Regions from separate parts of the Homo sapiens genome. Here region 1 is linked to region 2. Evidence: fine-mapped expression QTL. Tissue or cell type: whole blood. Region 2 holds a variant in brackets; the other region holds the start of a gene. All regions are shown on one strand. Distances are from middle to middle. Region 1 holds the start of RAB33B-AS1 (RAB33B antisense RNA 1). Region 2 has its middle 28 kb from the start of RAB33B-AS1.

What was found. PIP is the estimated chance that this variant, and not a neighbour inherited with it, causes the effect.
Region 1: it holds the start of RAB33B-AS1, and the variant in region 2 is fine-mapped to the expression of RAB33B-AS1 in whole blood (TOPMed, PIP 0.95).

What each region holds. Positions count from the first base shown.
Region 1 is chr4:139,448,812-139,457,641 of GRCh38, reverse strand. RAB33B-AS1 (RAB33B antisense RNA 1) reads left to right here and starts at 3,601. Exons shown (of 1, transcript NR_159964.1): 1 at 3,601-5,967. RAB33B (RAB33B, member RAS oncogene family) reads right to left here and starts at 3,521. Exons shown (of 2, transcript NM_031296.3): 1 at 3,198-3,521. The coding sequence starts at 3,446. RefSeq lists enhancers at 3,224-3,273, 3,894-4,233 and a silencer at 3,494-3,823.
Region 2 is chr4:139,421,436-139,430,265 of GRCh38, reverse strand. It overlaps the pseudogene LOC100421868. Among named protein-coding and RNA genes, the nearest start is that of RAB33B-AS1, 28 kb to the left of the region's middle. The variant G/A (reference allele first, on the strand shown) is at 4,451.

The DNA of each region.
Region 1 (8,830 bases), 27 kb before region 2:
CTTCTTTCCAGCAATTACTCATTAAATATTTGTTTTACCAGTGTGGGGAGAGGTCCTGATTATTTTCCTTTAGTTAATATTAACATTTTGCACTTAACATGGGAACATTTCATTTCTACCGCTACAAAAAAGTAAGCTACTAAAATGTTCAAGTAGGACCTGCTGACCTCTAATGGGAGGCCGGATTAAATACAACACCAGGCTTTAATGGGTTGGTGTGTCTGCCACTGGAAAATGATTGTGCTAAAGGAATACAATTAGTCATGAAGGGGATATACACACGAGGAAGGAGCATAAGGATTAGAGTTAGGAGTCTCAATTTAAAAGCCGAATGTATTTGTATTTAAGGAATTTAATTTTATAATTTTATTCGACTTCCAAAATTTTGCAAACAAGATTTTCCTCTTTCAACTACCTGCACATACTGCTTAGGAATGGATTAGCAGATATAGGCTTTCTTAAATTTCATAAAACATTTTAACGGATTCTGAAAGGGCACTGTTGTTAAGTCATGCTTTCTGAAAATTTTCTAGTCCATGATTATCAAAACATTTAACGCAATATCTCATTTTTATCAAAGAAATAATGTCTAGAATGGCATTTTACTAGTAAAGTAATAGAGCTTTCCAGCTTTGAGATGAAAAATTAGGAAAAATGTCATTTTAGATCAGGCTACAATTTTCCAAAGACGTAATATGAACATTTCAGCAGCACTCAAGATGTATTACAGGTTAACCAAAAAGCAGCAGAAGCAGCACATAGAATAAAGCTCTTTATATCACTTTTCAGTTTTCGAAAAAAAGGGCACTAAAAAAAATTAAGCTCTGTGGTTTTAAAAAATGCCCAACATAGCTATATCTTTTCCTACTATAGAAACCTCAGAACATGTCTGTAGTCATTTCAACCACAATAAAAATCTCTCTCAAGTCTCACCATTGGTGGCACAAATCAACGGCTAGGGCCTTAGAAGAAAAATGATCTCAGTATTCAAGTCCATATCAATGTAACAAGTTAGGCTAAAGTTCAGTAGAAATAATCTCCCCAAAAAATATCATCTCCTTGCTCTTCCCAACCAGAATTATCAACTCTGTGCTCCCAGATTCGTCATACCTGTGGTTCTGTCTTATTTATCACTGCCAGCACTCACCTCAGTAGTTAGGTAATTGACTTTATACACTGCACATGCTTTATATTTTTTCAATACTATTATCTCTTAAATTTGCACCTGATTCATCTGTTATCTTTAAGTATAAATGGCAACCCAGGAACAGATAAAGGGCCCTCAAATCCCAACTCCTCCCCCACCCTCATTCTCTCCACTTTTGAAAGAATTTCCTACTTCCGTTTTTGTTTTTGTTTTGTTTTTTAAATTTCTCTCCCCTTAGCTGTCTACCTATGCCCTCCACTATCTCTGCTTTCAACTTTGGGTGTACAACTGCAGAACTAATGGTGGCAAACAGGAAAAATAATGTTAAGCCACCAGGAAAGACAAAGAATCTTTTTAAAGGCACCAACTATGAACCAGGTGCTTCATATATGTCCTCATCTGATCCTCACAGCAGCCTGATAAGGTATCATGATCCCAGTTTTTCGGAAGAAAAATACAGACTCTGAGAGGTTAAAGAATCTGCCTAAGGTCCAGGGTGACCAACTATTTTGGTGTGCCCAATACAGGGGGTCCCCGGGATGTGAGACCCAGTTTTAAAACCTGGACAGTCTTGGGCAAAGTTGGTCACCCTAGTAAGGACACGCAGCCCATCCCTACCCTTTCGTAGGTTCAGATATGAATCCAGGTTAGTTGGGCTCCAAAGCCCACGTACTTCCCAGATTCCTGCTTCTCCCAATCTTAACTCCCTTGGAACTTCAGAAGCTCCATTATTTTTCACCCCAAAGGCTTCTGGGCCAAACCTAATTCTGGTGAAAAATGTTTAGCCTTTTATTCTATCTTTTCTTCTGCAAGTATACAAATCTTTCTAAATTCCCTAATACAAAGCAACTCCAAAACCACCACTGAGAGCTCATATGGGACATGAAATACTAATGTGAAAAATTAAAAGACAGAAGCACCAAAGAAAGGTTAATTTCTTTTAACCCAGCTTACTTCACCTCTACCATCATTAGCAGTATAACCCGTTGGGGTGGGGGGCGATGATTAGGGAACTGAAAAATAAATTGTTCTTGCCTCTAAGATACGAGGGTAGGAACGTCTAAAGCAAGCCTGTTCTCCCACCACTCCCCATCCCCACCAAGAGACTGAGATAAAGACGATCGCTGATTTAAAGCAGTAGTATAAGGCAAGGTGGTTCCACCTATGTTTTAAGGAGTGGCATCAACAGGTGGCATTTAGTGGTGGCTTGCTATGAAGGTGTGTCTAAGGTTTATACCATCAAGAGGCCTAAGCCTTGTCATTGATCCTCATTCCACTGTTAGATTCCAACCCCTCAGAACTTCAAACCTGCCCTGGGGCCTATACTACCTTCTCCACTATTACTGTCACTCAGTGTCCCCAGTCCCAGGGACCAAAAATAACGACTTAAAGGGAATAAAGAATTGGGCGTGTGTCTGAGGTGGCATCATGAGAAATGCTTTTGGCAACCTGAGTAGGAACTATCACATATAGAATGTTTCTGCAGGAAAATAGATTTTTCTAAAATCAGTATCATAAAGAAACTACTACAGCAAAACTGTATGCAAGAGAATACCTAAGTACTTCCTCAAAGGCAATAGGCTTTACTTCCACAACATCTAAGGCACTGCTCGAATGAATGTTTAATAACTATTACTGATTAAATGAATTTTCCATTCTCGCGCAATTTCACTGTTTTTCCTCCGTTCATATTTGACTGACTCCCAGCACACGACACACACAGTAAATGGGTCGGTAGATAAGCCCTACACTCCTGAACTCAAAGTGTGGTCCACGGACTAGCTGCACCTGCATCATCAGCGAGATTATTAAATCATAGCCTGCATTTTCAAAAACAAGATCCCCAGGTAAATCGCATGCACAATGAAGTCTGAGAAACGCTGCCTTAGAAGTTTGCAGTATTGCAATCCTTCCAATCCCCAACTCCAATCTCATCAGCGTGAGAAAAAAATGGAGCGCACACACACCGTGCACACGGCCAGCGACCAGCCCACGGTGGGGTTGGGACACCTGTCACCCTGTCCTCCCCAACAGTTCCCCATCCGCTCACCTTGATGCGCTCCCCATCAATCTCCACCGCTCGTTCTCGGAAATCCACCCCTATCGTGGCCTCGGTGCGGTCGGGGAAGCGGCCAGCGCAGAAGCGGTAGGTCAGGCATGTCTTGCCCACATTGGAGTCGCCGATCACGATTATCTTGAAGATGCGGGAGCGGGCAGGAGGCAAAAACCCTGAGGCCCCTGACACTGCCCCGCTGGACGAAAAGCTTGCCTCGAGCGACGACTCCATCTCCTCAGCCATTCCCCCGACCCGCCCCAAACTGAGGCGGAGGAAAGGAGACACAGAAAGGCTGAGAGATTACGCCACCGCAAGAGCGCGCGCCCAGCCGGCCAGTTCGGCTGCGCAACTTCCCAGGAGCCACCGCCCACCAGCCCCGAGCGCGCCTGCGCACCTTCCCGCCCCGCCCTTGCCCGCACAGGTGTGGCACCCGCCCGCCCCGCCGCACGGAGCCGCCTGCCCGCGGCCACACGCCAGGCGTCACTCGGGCTGGCGCCGGTCTACCTAGGCAGGCGTGGGACCTGTCGGGGGCTTCACGGCAGCGCGGAAGGCCAGCCTGCAGAGAGGCTGGGCCCAGCGCCCTGACTGACCCAGCCCCGCCACGTCCAAGGTTCCCGCCCTCTGGAGGAAGCCGCGCAATCACTCCGGGGGCGGGGAGAGACAGACAACTGAGAGGAAGGAGGTACCACGGGCACTCTCTCGCGAGAGGGCCGCAGAGCCGCCTTTGACGGGGGCGTGTACCTGGAGAGCAACGGTAAGGACGGAGCCGACGGCTCCGGCGTCGGGTCGGTTCCGGCATCGACGTATCGTTTGGTCGCCCCAGAGAGGAGACAGGTTTCTTCAGCTTGCCGCTGAGGATGTGGCATCGGCTGCGCTCACCGCCGCCGCCTCTGTGAACTGCGGGAGTTGGGACAGCGGCCAGGGCTAGATGGGTGGGACGCGAGTCCTCGCCGAAAGCTTGCCCTGTGCGGGGCGCACTTGGAGGCGAGCTCTGGGCCGTGGCGAGTTTTGCAGCCTAAGGTCTTGGCAGGCGCATTGCTGTGGGCTGCCGGAGAGCAGGCTGGAGTTCGAGACCGCCCACCGGAGAGCAGGCGAGAGTTCGAGGCCTAGGTACAGCGCATTTCGCTAGGCATCCCCAAGAATATCCGCGTGATCCTTGTGGCCAGAGTTTGTTGAGCTAATATCCCCAGCCCAAACAGTAGAGCACATCACATGTCGGCCACCTGGGAGCGTTGAACCTGGTAGTTACTAGGCGCCCCTGGTGGAAATAAAACTCATTATGCCCTAGTTATGTCTTAGTGCCTGGGTGACGATGATGTAGCGGTTAAAGATTAACTGAGCGCACTTAGAGGTTGTCTTTGTCTACCTAAGGAAAATATCAATAGATTAAACCCCCAACCTTAAAGAATCTCCGTGAATTTTTCTGAGGAAACGTGCAATATTGTCATACAAAAGGCCCCAAATATGCAAACATTGCTTTTTGTTAAAAGTTTGTTTTGTTTTGCAGTGACATCTGTTTGAGCAGATGAATATGCCATTGGGAAAGTCAAGGACTGTCGGAGAGGAGGACATGGCAGACCTTAACTAAAGTGAGGGGGACAGTAGAGCACTAAAAGTTCTAGGAAAGGAGATGAACTGCTTATTCCATCAGATGAAAATATAGTCAGAACAGATGAGTAGTAGAACTTAAACATGCCCGGAGTTGCCAGGAATTTGCAAAAGCCTTGATATAATTCCTGTTGCTGTAGAAAGACTTTCTACAGTCACTAATATATCAAGTTATGTTCACTAGAAAAAAAGTTTACTTAGTTTATAGAAATGGGCTGAAAAATCCTAATTACTTATCTGTGAGGTTATTTTCATGAAGGTTAATCATCCAGAAACTATTAGAGAGCCTCGGAATATATTTCTTCTAATCTGCTCTACCTATCCCATTCAAAGGAGGGAATCTGAAGATTTAAGGACAAAGAGCAGTTGAAAACTCAGAGCTGTGGTTAATGGGAGAATTTCAAGGATGGTGAAAAAAACTAACATCATTGCATCCCTGTTTTTTGTATTCTGGACTTTTTAGTTTAGCTCTTGGTAAACTACATCAGAAATTCTTTATGCTAACTCTAACACACATTTTGGGGTATTGCTAATTTAATCTTTGAATACTGTTTTTGCTGTTTCATGATTATATGTTATGTCCTACCAGCTAGATTGCCAACTCTTGACTACTGACTGGAAGTTTATTGTTTATTCAGCAAATAATGAATTAAGTCAGTGAAGTGAGAGATTTCGTGTGTAAGGATTGTTAACTTGAACATTTCACCAGTTACACACAGTTCAGCCCTACTTAAATTTTAAAAATCATTGTTGGCACTTGACATTGTTATGAGGAGTTTTGTATTTTCAACTTGTATTTTGAGAGTGTCCTCATGTGACTGAAGTATGTGCTACTCTTCTTAATTGAATAACCCCAGAATCTCCAGAATTGATAATTGGAGGAAATTCTACTGTTGGAAAGAATGGATGGATTATACAGCCCTGTTTTTTGACTGTTCATTTTGTCCTTGGAGTCACTACCACTTGGCCTCAAAGTGTGAACATGTAACCCTTTCCTTAATACTTTGCTACACAGCTGAGCAGAAACTGTAAATTTGGATCCTTTGTCAGTACAACTTAAAATGGAACAATTTCAATGGCTTAGGGTAAGATAAGTATGTAAAGATACTTTTGTAATAGAAGAAAAAACATTGGATATTAAAATCACACAGTAGTACCTGGGTGTGGTGGCTCATGCCTATAATCCCAACGCTTTGGGAGGCCAAGACAGGAGCACTGCTGGAGGCCAGGAATTTGAGACCAGCCTGGCCAACATGGTGAAACCTCGTCTCTACCAAAAAATACAAAAATCAGCCAGGTGTGGTGGCACATGCCTGTAATCCCGGATACTCGGGAGGCTGAGGTGGGAGAATCGCTTGAACCAGGGAGGTGGAGGTTGCAGTGAGCTGAAATCGCAAAACTGCACTCCAACCTGGGCAACAGAGTGAGACCTCCTGTCTCCAAAAAAAAAAAAAAAAAAAAAAAAAAGTGGGTGTGGTTGTGTACACCTCTACTTCCTGCTACTCAGGAGGCTGAGGCTGGAGGATCTCTTGAGCCCAGGAGTTCAAGTCTGCAGTGAGCTATAGTTGCACTGCTGCACTCCAGCCTGGGTAGCACAGCGAGACCCCCATCTCTAAAACATAAAAGTAAACAGGCTGGGTGCAGTGGCTTACACCTGTAATCCCAGCACTTTGGGAGGCCGAGGAGGGTGGATCATGAGGTCAAGAGTTGAGACCAGCCTGGCCAACGTGGCGAAACCCCATCTGTACTAAAAATACAAAAATTAGCCAGTCGTGGTGCCAGGTGCCTTTAATCCCAGCTATTCAGGAGGCTGAGACAGGAGAATCGCTTGAACCTGGGAGACAGAGGTTGCAGTGAGCCAAGATCATGCCATTGCACTTCAGCCTCGGGGACAAGAACAAGACTGTGTCTCAAAAAAAAAAAAAAAAGTAGAAAACAGAATAGCATAAGGATAATCTTATATACAAAATAAGACTACTCAATTTCTGAATTTTTTTTTTAACTAGATATGCCACCTCCTGATGACAGTGCCCATTTCGTAACTTGTCTTACTCAGAAACAGCTCTTAGATAATTTTACTCTTTAAGTTCAGGTCTGAGCACAGAGGACAAAGAATTCCCTTGATTGCCTATGAAAGAAAGGATTCTCAACCTTGGCACTATTGACATTTTAAGTCAGATAATTCTTTGTTGTGGAAGGTTATCCTGTGCATTGTAGGATGTTTATTTTATCAGCATCCCTGGCTTCTACCCAGTAAATCCCAGTAGCACCCCACCACCAACCAAAACTGTCTCAAAATGTTGCTAGATGCCCCTTGGGGACAAAAATCCTCTCCCTCCCTCCTCCTTGAATGCCACTGGCACTCCTTGAGCCTACAGAAGGGCTCTTCTCACAAGTTTGATACCCTGTACCTCCCAGTTGATAGTGGGAATTACTTCTCCTTTGAAGACACAATTCCAGTTACCCTGAGAAGTATGGCATTGGCCTTGCTGGCCTCCACCAAATTACTATATCACTGTGTTTGGTAACCCCAGACATCATACTAGGGCTTTAATTTCAGTATATAAATAGTAAATTAGTATCCTTGTATAGGTTAGCTTAATGAGTTTCAGAATTCTTCAAGTCATATCTTCATAGGTAGGATCACTGTGGAGTTAATGGCATTTGAACTATGTACTCAGTACTATGCTAGTGGTTGGTGCAAGGGGAAGATACAAAATAAGGTGTGATTTTAGCCCATGAGGAATTTATACTTTATCTGCAGAAGCAAATTAATATGGAACCGTTAGTGAACACCTGGATAAAACAGAATGCTAAATTTTACCCTAGAGGTGCTTGGCCTGGACTTCAAGAATTCTAAGTGAATTGAAGTATGTTCACAGTAAGAAAGGTTAAAAATGGCTCTGCCCACTTGTAGGCAGATGGGAAGCTAGGATGGCAGACTTGCCAATATTTGATATATGTAAAAAGTGCAATCATGGCCTCTGTTGTTTCCTCTTTTATCTCGTTCTCTTTATTAGTCCAGGTTCTCTAGAGGAATAGAACTAATAGGAGATATATATATATATATATATGGAGTTTATTAAGTAGTATTAACTCACATGATCACAAGGTCCCAGAATAGGCCATATGCAAGCTGAGGAGAAAGGAAGGCAGTCGAGTTTCAAAGCTGAAGAACATGGAGTCCAATGTTTGAGGACGGGAAGCATCCAACATGGGAGAAAGCTGTAGGCTGGGAGGCTAAGCCAGTCTAGTCTTTTCATGTTTTTCTGCCTGCTTTATATTCTGGTCGTGCTGGCAGCTGATTAGATGGTGCCCGCCCAGATTAAGGGTGGGTCTGCCTTTCCCAGCCCACTAACTCAAATGTTAATCTCCTTTGGTAACACTCTCACAGACACATTCAGGATCGATACTTTGCATCCTTTAATCCAATCAAGTTGACTGTATTAACCATCACAAGTCCACCACTTGTCAACTTAAACACATACATATCTCCTGAGATCATTCATAATCTTCAAATAAAGACAATAATAATGTCATAATTACACCTAATACAACTATCCTTTGTACAGCTGGAAACACACCAGTCCCCAACCCAAATGCTATTACATAAAGTTAACAATACTTAAATGCTGATATGAAGTAAATCTTAATGTCCCATGATAAAAGGAGGCTGGGCGCAGTGGCTCACGCCTGTAATCCCAGCACTTTGGGAGGCCGAGATGAGTAATGGCTTTTGACAGTAATAGAGGGTCTCAACCTGATTTTTCTTAAGTTTGCATAAGGCTTAGGAGAGGATAAAATAAGGCAGGATCTAGAGATTGGTGAGGAGAAACGGAAGTCCTCATTCTTGACAGCTCTCAGCACATGCAGCCCTCCCCACACACACAGTCACACTCACACACACTCACAACCAGATTCACATTCCTACCCATGCACACACTAACACACACTTGTGCACTTAAACTCGTGCACTTACACATTCACATTCATATACTCACATGCACACATTCAAAACA
Region 2 (8,830 bases):
CCCTTTGAAAACTGGCACAAGACAGGGATGCCCTCTCTCACCACTCCTATTCAACATAGTGTTGGAAGTTCTGGCCAGGGCAATTAGGCAGGAGAAGGAAATAAAGGGTATTCAATTAGGAAAAGAGGAAGTCAAATTGTCCCTGTTTGCAGATGACATGATTGTATATCTAGAAAACCCCATTGTCTCAGCCCAAAATCTCCTTAAGCTGATAAGCAACTTCAGCAAAGTCTCAGGATACAAAATCAATGTGCAAAAATCACAAGCATTCCTATACACCAACAACAGACAAACAGAGAGCCAAATCATGAGTGAACTCCCATTCACAATTGCTTCAAAGAGAATAAAATACCTAGGAATCCAACTTACAAGGGATGTGAAGGACCTCTTCAAGGAGAACTACAAACCACTGCTCAAGGAAATAAAAGAGGATACAAACAAATGGAAGAACATTTCATGCTCATGGGTAGGAAGAATCAATATCGTGAAAATGGCCATACTGCCCAAGGTAATTTACAGATTCAATGCCATCCCCATCAAGCTACCAATGCCTTTCTTCACACAACTGGAAAAAACTACTTTAAAGTTCATATGGAACCAAAAAAGAGCCCGCATCGCCAAGTCAATCCTAAGCCAAAAGAATAAAGCTGGAGGCATCACACTACCTGACTTCAAACTATGCTACAAGGCTACAGTAACCAAAACAGCAAGGTACTGTTACCAAAACAGAGATATAGATCAATGGAACAGAACAGAGCCCTCAGAAATAATGCCGCATGTCTACAACTATCTGATCTTTGACAAACCTGAGAAAAACAAGCAATGGGGAAAGGATTCCCTATTTAATAAATGGTGCTGGGAAAACTGGCTAGCCATATGGAGAAAGCTGAAACTGGATCCCTTCCTTACACCTTATACAAAAATCAATTCAAGATGGATTAAAGACTTAAACGTTAGACCTAAAACCATAAAAACCCTAGAAGAAAACCTAGGCATTATCATTCAGGACATAGGCATGGGCAAGGACTTCATGTCCAAAACACCAAAAGCAATGGCAACCAAAGCCAAAATTGACAAATGGGATCTAATTAAACTAAAGAGCTTCTGCACAGCAAAAGAAACTACCATCAGAGTGAACAGGCAACCTACAACATGGGAGAAAATTTTCGCACCCTACTCATCTGACAAAGGGCTAATATCCAGAATCTACAATGAACTCAAACAAATTTACAAGAAAAAAACAAACAACCCCATCAAAAAGTGGGCAAAGGACATGAACAGACACTTCTCAAAAGAAGACATTTATGCAGCCAAAAAACACATGAAAAAATGCTCATCATCACTGGCCATCAGAGAAATGCAAATCAAAACCACTATGAGATATCATCTCACACCAGTTAGAATGGCAATCATTAAAAAGTCAGGAAACAACAGGTGCTGGAGAGGATGTGGAGAAATAGGAACACTTTTACACTGTTGGTGGGACTGTAAACTAGTTCAACCATTGTAGAAGTCAGTGTGGCGATTCCTCAGGGATCTAGAACTAGAAATACCATTTGACCCAGCCATCCCATTACTGGGTATATACCCAAATGACTATAAATCATGCTGCTATAAAGACACATGCACACGTATGTTTATTGCGGCATTATTCACAATAGCAAAGACTTGGAACCAACCCAAATGTCCAACAATGATAGACTGTATTAAGAAAATGTGGCACATATACACCATGGAATACTATGCAGCCATAAAAAATGATGAGTTCATGTCCTTTGTAGGGACATGGATGAAATTGGAAATCATCATTCTCAGTAAACTATCGCAAGAACAAAAAACCAAACACCGCATATTCTCACTCATAGGCGGGAATTGAACAATGAGATCACATGGACACATGAAGGGGAATATCACACTCTGGGGACTGTGGTGGGGTGGGGGGAGGGGGGAGGGATAGCATTGGGAGATATACCTAAGGCTAGATGACGAGTTAGTGGGTGCAGCGCACCAGCATGGCACATGTATACATATGTAACTAACCTGCACAATGTGCACATGTACCCTAAAACTTAAAGTATAATTAAAAAAAAAAAAGAAAGAAAATGTGGCACATATACACCATGGAATACTATGCAGCCATAAAAAATGATGAGTTCATGTCCTTTGTAGGGACATGGATGAAATTGGAAATCATCATTCTCAGTAAACTATCGCAAGAACAAAAAACCAAACACCGCATATTCTCACTCATAGGTGGGAATTGAACAATGAGATCACATGGACACAGGAAGGGGAACATCACACTCTGGGGACTGTTGTGGGGTGGGGGGAGGGGGGAGGGATAGCATTGGGAGATATACCTAATGCTAGATGACGAGTTAGTGGGTGCAGCGCACCAGGATGGCACATGTATACGTATGTAACTAACCTGCACGTTGTGCACATGTACCCTAAAACTTGAAGTATAATAATAAATAATAATAATAATAATAATAATTGGGAGGAAATAAAGTGGTTAAGAAGAGAAAAAAAAAAAAAGAAGGTCCTTGCTTCCCCTTCACCTTCTGGCCATGATTGTAAGTTTCCTGAGCCCTCTCCAGCCACGTGGAACTGTGAGTCAATTAAACTCTTTCCTTTATAAATTACCCAGTCTCGGCCAGGTGCGGTGGCTCAAGCCTGTAACCAGTACTTTGGGAGGCTGAGGCGGGTGGATCACGAGGTCAGGTGTTCAAGACCAGCCTGACCAATATGGTGAAACCCCATCTCTACTAAAAATACAAAAATTAGCCAGGCGTGGTGGTACACGCCTGTAGTCCCAGCTACTTGGGAGGCTAAGGCAGGAGAATTGCTTGAACTCGGGAGGAAGAGGTTGCAGTGAGCCAAGATCGACCACTGCATTCCAGCCTGGGTGACAGAGCGAGACTCCATCTTGAGAAAATAAATAAATTACCCAGTCTCGGGTATTTCTTTATAGCAGTGTGAGAATAGACTAATACACAGTCCATCAGGGTATTGGGAAGACTGTGGTTTGCAAGAACACAGCAACATCAGTGGATGCCTTTTGGATGGTGATGGCCTTGTGTTAACTGCCTGCAGCTGATGAACGTGGTGGGGAACATGCTGCATTTCCTACCTGCCTTTGTGTGCAGGTGAAGCAACCAGTCTCGAAGCACTACGCAGGAGTGATGATGATCTGCGACACCTGCATCTACTCAGGCAGCCTGCTGAGCCCCAGCCATAGCTGGATCTGTGACGAGCTCACGGGCAGCAGGGGTCTGACACAATGGGGACCTACATCGTGGACCTGCTGACCCACCCGACCTTCTGGAGAGATGAGAAGTTGCACACACTGTCAAGACATACATGAGGCAGAGTGCCACCATCTGTGGCATCCAGCATGTCACCATTGATGACTTCTGTTTCAAAAAAAAAAAAAAAAAACTACCTGCCGAAACAGGATTCAACACTGTGTAAAAGAAGGAAACAACTTCACAACATCAAGATACTAAGCAATGTAGCAGTTACAACTATACAATAAAAAATTACTAGACACATGAAGATTCAACAAAATATGATCCATACCAGAAGAAAAATCAGTCAATAGAATCAGAAATGACAGAGATCATGGAATTAGCACAAAAAAAACCATTAAAACAGCTATTACTAATATAATTAAGAATTTACAAGAAAATATGAACATAAGAAAAAATGAAGATATGAAAAACAATGAAATGCAGCTTTTAGACTTATGTAATGCAATATCTGAAAAAAATTTAAATCACTGTAGGAGCTTAAAGCAAATTTAATGTAGAAGAAAAGATTGATGACCTTGAAGACATAGCAATAGAAGCTATTCAAGCTGTAGCACACAGAGAAAAATACACCAAAAAGCCAAACTGCTATGAGTGTCTGCAGAAATAAACTTCAGTAGATGTGTAACTCCAAGGACTGTAGGTAGTGGAATTGACAGATATGAAAAGTATAGAATTTCTGTGTTCTGAATATTTTAAAAGGTAAAGGATGTTATAAAGATGAGCAAGAGATTACCAGGAATGGACAGACAGGTTGGAAGGTAGTTGGGAGATGGGGAGATGCTCTAGAAATATAAAATATAATTGTTAGAATAACAAAACTCAGTGGAAAGGTTAAAGAGCAAATTTGATACAGATGAAGAGAGAATTAATAAATGAAGCCACTGAGGTGGCTCATGCCTATAATCCCAGCACTTTGGGAGGCCGAGGTGAGACGATCACTTGAGGCTAGGAGTTCAAGACCAACCTGGACAACATGGTGAGACCCTGTCTCTACAAAAAAGTTTAAAAATTAGCTGGGCATGTTAGTGTATGCCTGTAGTCCTAGCTACTCAAAAGGCTAAAGCAGAGCATGACTTGAGCCCAGGAGTTTGAGGCTTCAGAGTGCTATGATTATGCCACTGTGCTCCAGCTTGGGC[G/A]ACTGAGGGAGACCTTGTCTCTTAAAAAATAAATGAGAAGATATCTTTAAAAATTACCCAGGGTATACTAAGGAGAGACAAGGAAGTAAAAATATGAAAACAATATTAAGAGATGGAAGCTTGGATAAGAAAGTCACACATATGACTAATTGAAATCTCAGAAAGAAAGAAAAGAAGGAAAAAAGTAGAGGCAATACTCCCTGCCCCCTAATATTTTGTGAAATTGTTCAAACATACAGAAAAGTTGAAAGAATTACACAGTGAACTTTTACATTTACCAATTAATTCTAGAACATTTTGTTATATTTACTGTATCATATAGCTATCCACTTAACCATCCATCAATCCTATTTTTTATGCATTTCAGAGTAAGTTGTAGACATCACCACTAAACATTTTAGTATGTTCATCATTAGTATTCAGTATTGTTCTATAGCTTTTTTGTATTTAAAATGTACATACAATAAAATGCACAGATCTTAAGTACAATATTTGGTAAATTTTTACAAGTGCATATACCTGTGTAACACAAACTGTCAAAAAAAACCATATACTGCTCTTCAGAAAATTCCCTTATGCCCCTTGCTAGTCAATCCCTGCCCTTTACCTCCCACTGGTAAGAAGTGTTCTAATGAGAGGTATCATTTAGATAAATAGTGCTGTGATTTTTGCAGAAATGATGAAAAAAATGAATTAACAGATCTGGGAGTCACAAGATAATGAAAGCAGGATACATAAACAGAAATGTATAATGACATTGTATAAAGAACCTGCAGAATTTGTAAGATCTTACAAGCAGCTAGAAAGGGCAGATCACTTGCAAAAGAACAGCAGTGAAAATGACAGTGGATTTATTATCAGCATCAATGGAAACCAGAAGTTAATGGAATAATACCTTTCAAGTGCCAAAAGATAATGGTCAACTAGAATTATGTACTTGCCCAGACTACCTTTTAAGAAGAGTGAAATAGAGACATTTAAAGATAAGTGATAATTGAGAGTTTAGCTCAGAGATATGCACAAAACTCCTAAATGACATATAGTCATGCACTACATGACAAAGTTTTGGTCAATAACAGACCGCATATACAATGGTGGTCCCATAAGATTATATTGGCTGAGTATTGCTAATCCAAAAATCCAAAATCCAAAATACTCCAAAATTTGAAACTTTTTGAGTGCCAACATGATACTCAAAGGAAAGGTTCCTTGGAACATTTCTTTGGATTTTCAGGTTAGGGATGCTCAACACTAAGTATCATGCAAATATTCCAAAATAAAAAAAAAATTCAAAACCAAAATTTTCTTGTCCTAAGGATTTAGGATTAGGGATACGCAACCTGTAATACTGTATTTTTACTGGACCTTTTCTATGTTTAGATATACAAATACATACTCGTATTACAGTTGCCTATTCAGTACAGTAATATGCTATACAGGTTTGTAGCCTAGGAGCAAAAGGCTATGCCATATAGTCTAAATATGTAGTAGGCTATACCATCTAGGTTTGTGTAAGTACAGTCTGTGGTTTGCACAATGATGAAATCACGTAAGGACACATTTCACCTTTCTCAGAATGTATCCCATCATTAAGTGATGTGTGACTGTAGTTGAGAGATAGTATTTCACAGGAGTTAAGAATATGCACTTTGGAGACTCCATAGGTGTGAATCCCTATTCCACCATTTGCTAGCTGTGGAACACTGGACAAGTGAGTTAACACCTCTGTGCTTCAGTTTTTTTTCTCACTTGTAAAATTTTGACAATAATTGTATTCATGGAATTGTTATGAGGATTAAATGAACTAATATAAAATAAAGCACTTAGAACCAAACCTGGAATATAAGTGCTTTGTTAAGTCAGAGCTTAAAAAAAGGAAATTATCATAAAAGAATGGTCTGAAGTACAAAATAGAATGGTGAGTGAATAAAATGGTGAACAAGCTTGTCAGTCCAAACATCAGTCTAGAAAAATAAGGTCCGATTTGTGAAGTTTTGAACTAATGCCTCCAATAACAATAGCAAGTAGGCATTTGGGGGAGGGTCAATGTAATTAAAATTATTCTAAGATCATTACTTCGTTTCAAAGGAAAGTTAAGATATGTTTGCCTTTACATTTTGTTAAGTTAGACACTTATAAAATGCAGGGACAGTTGTTAAAAAAAAAAGGAATAAATACAGAGCTATGAATTCCAATTCAGTGGAGGAAAAATGGAATTTAAAAAATCTAACCATAAAGTCAGTTTTTTAAAAATGCAGAAACAGCCAGCGCCGTGGCTCACGCCTGTAATCCCAGCACTTTGGGAGGCTGAGACGGGCAGATCACGAGGTCAGGAGATCGAGACCATCCTGGCTAACACGGTGAAACCCCGTCTCTACTAAAAATACAAAAAATTAGCCAGACATGGTGGCGGGCGCCTGTAGTCCCAGCTACTTGGGAGGCTGAGGCAGGAGAATGGCATGAACCCGGGAGGCAGAGCTTGCAGTGAGCCGAGATCACGCCACTGCACTCCAGCCTGGGCGACAGAGCGAGACTCCGTCTCAAAAAAAAAAAAAAATGCAAAAACGTTGGGGCTATAAAAATAGTAGCTCAGAAAAAGCAAGGCAAATATAAACAAAAAAGATATATAAACAAATCCAACTATATCAAGAATCACAATAAACATAAATGTATGACATTTACCAATTAAAAGATAGAGTTTGTCAGACTGAAATGAAAAGAAAAATCTAGCTGTATGACATATACAAGAATCTGAAAACATACAGGCAAAACAGTAGAAGATAAGAGATAGAAAAACATATACCAGGCAGATCTTAATACAAAGAATTCACATACATACATTAATTTCAGAAAAAAGATTTTAAGACAAAAAAAGATTATTAGAATAAAAAGGTCATTACCTACTGATAAAAGGTTTTTTTCACCAGAAAAAAAACAGAAAAATTCTAATCCTGTTTGTAACTAATAAAATGGACTTAAGCTATATACAGCAAAAAATGTTAGAACTACAGGAGGTGGCAAATTTCTATGCAACTCTCTCAGTTCTTGATAGGTTAAACAAACAAAAACCAGTGCATTGGTCTAGGCCCTGGGAATACAGAAGTGAACAGGCAGACCATCACCTGCATGCTAGTGGGAAGATAAATTAACAAAAATATCAAATTTTGGATAATGATAAATGAATGAAGAAAAAATCAAATATAAAGGTAGAATCTAATGGGAAGAGGTGGTTATTTTATGAGGGTGGTTAAGGGAAGGCTTCCTTGAAGAGGTGGCATTTATGCGGACACATGAATTAGTTGAGGGAGCAAATGATGTGTATATATAGGGGAATATTTTTTCAGACAAAAGGAAAAGCAACTGGAAAGACCCTGAGGCAAACATGAGTTTCACATAATGCAAATATACATATTTAGCTTTTTGAATCTGCTTAGAATGTCTTTTCCCCCCATTTTAAGTAGAATGTAGAAACCTTACATATAGGTCTACTTAACCTGTACCCCTTACGTTAGAGTTGTCATGAATTACGTCTACATATGTTTAAAACCCCATTAGACAATGGTACAGTTATTTTCAACCATCAAATATATTTTTAAAGAACTTAGTACCTGTCAATGATAGACTAGATGTGGCACATATACACCATGGAACACTATGCAGCCATAAAAAAGGATGAGTTAATGTCCTTTGCAGGGACATGGATGAAGCTAGAAACCATCATTCTCAGCAAACTAACACAGGAACAGAAAACCAAACGCCACATGTTCTCACTCATAAGTGGGAGTTGAACAATGAGAACATATGGACACAGGGAGGGGAACATCACACACCGGGGCCTGTTGGGGGATGGGGTACTAGGGGAGGGATAGCATTAGGAGAAATACCTAATGTAGATGATGGGTTGATGGGTGCAGCAAACCACCATGGCACATATATACCTATGTAACCTGCACATTCTGCACATGTATCCTAGAACTTAAAGTATAATTTAAAAAACAAACAAAACTTAAGAGGAGAATAGGAGAATAGACTACTATTTTTACACAGATATTTACCATTTCTGGTGCTCTTCCTTCATTCCTGATGTTTTCAGGTTTCCTTCTGGTATCATTTCCCTCTGTCTGAAGAATTTTCTTTAGCAATTATTTTAGAACAGCTCTGCTAGAAATGAATTCTTTTAGTTTGTCTTCATATGAGAATGCCATTATTTCACCTGAATTCCTGATGGATATTTTCACTAGATGTAGTATTCTGTGTTGACACTTTCAGTGCTTTAAAATTATTGTGCCACTTCTGGCCGGGCGCGGTGGCTCATGCCTGTAATCCCAGCACTTTGGGAGGCCAAGGTGGGTGGATCATGAGGTCAGGAGATTGAGACCA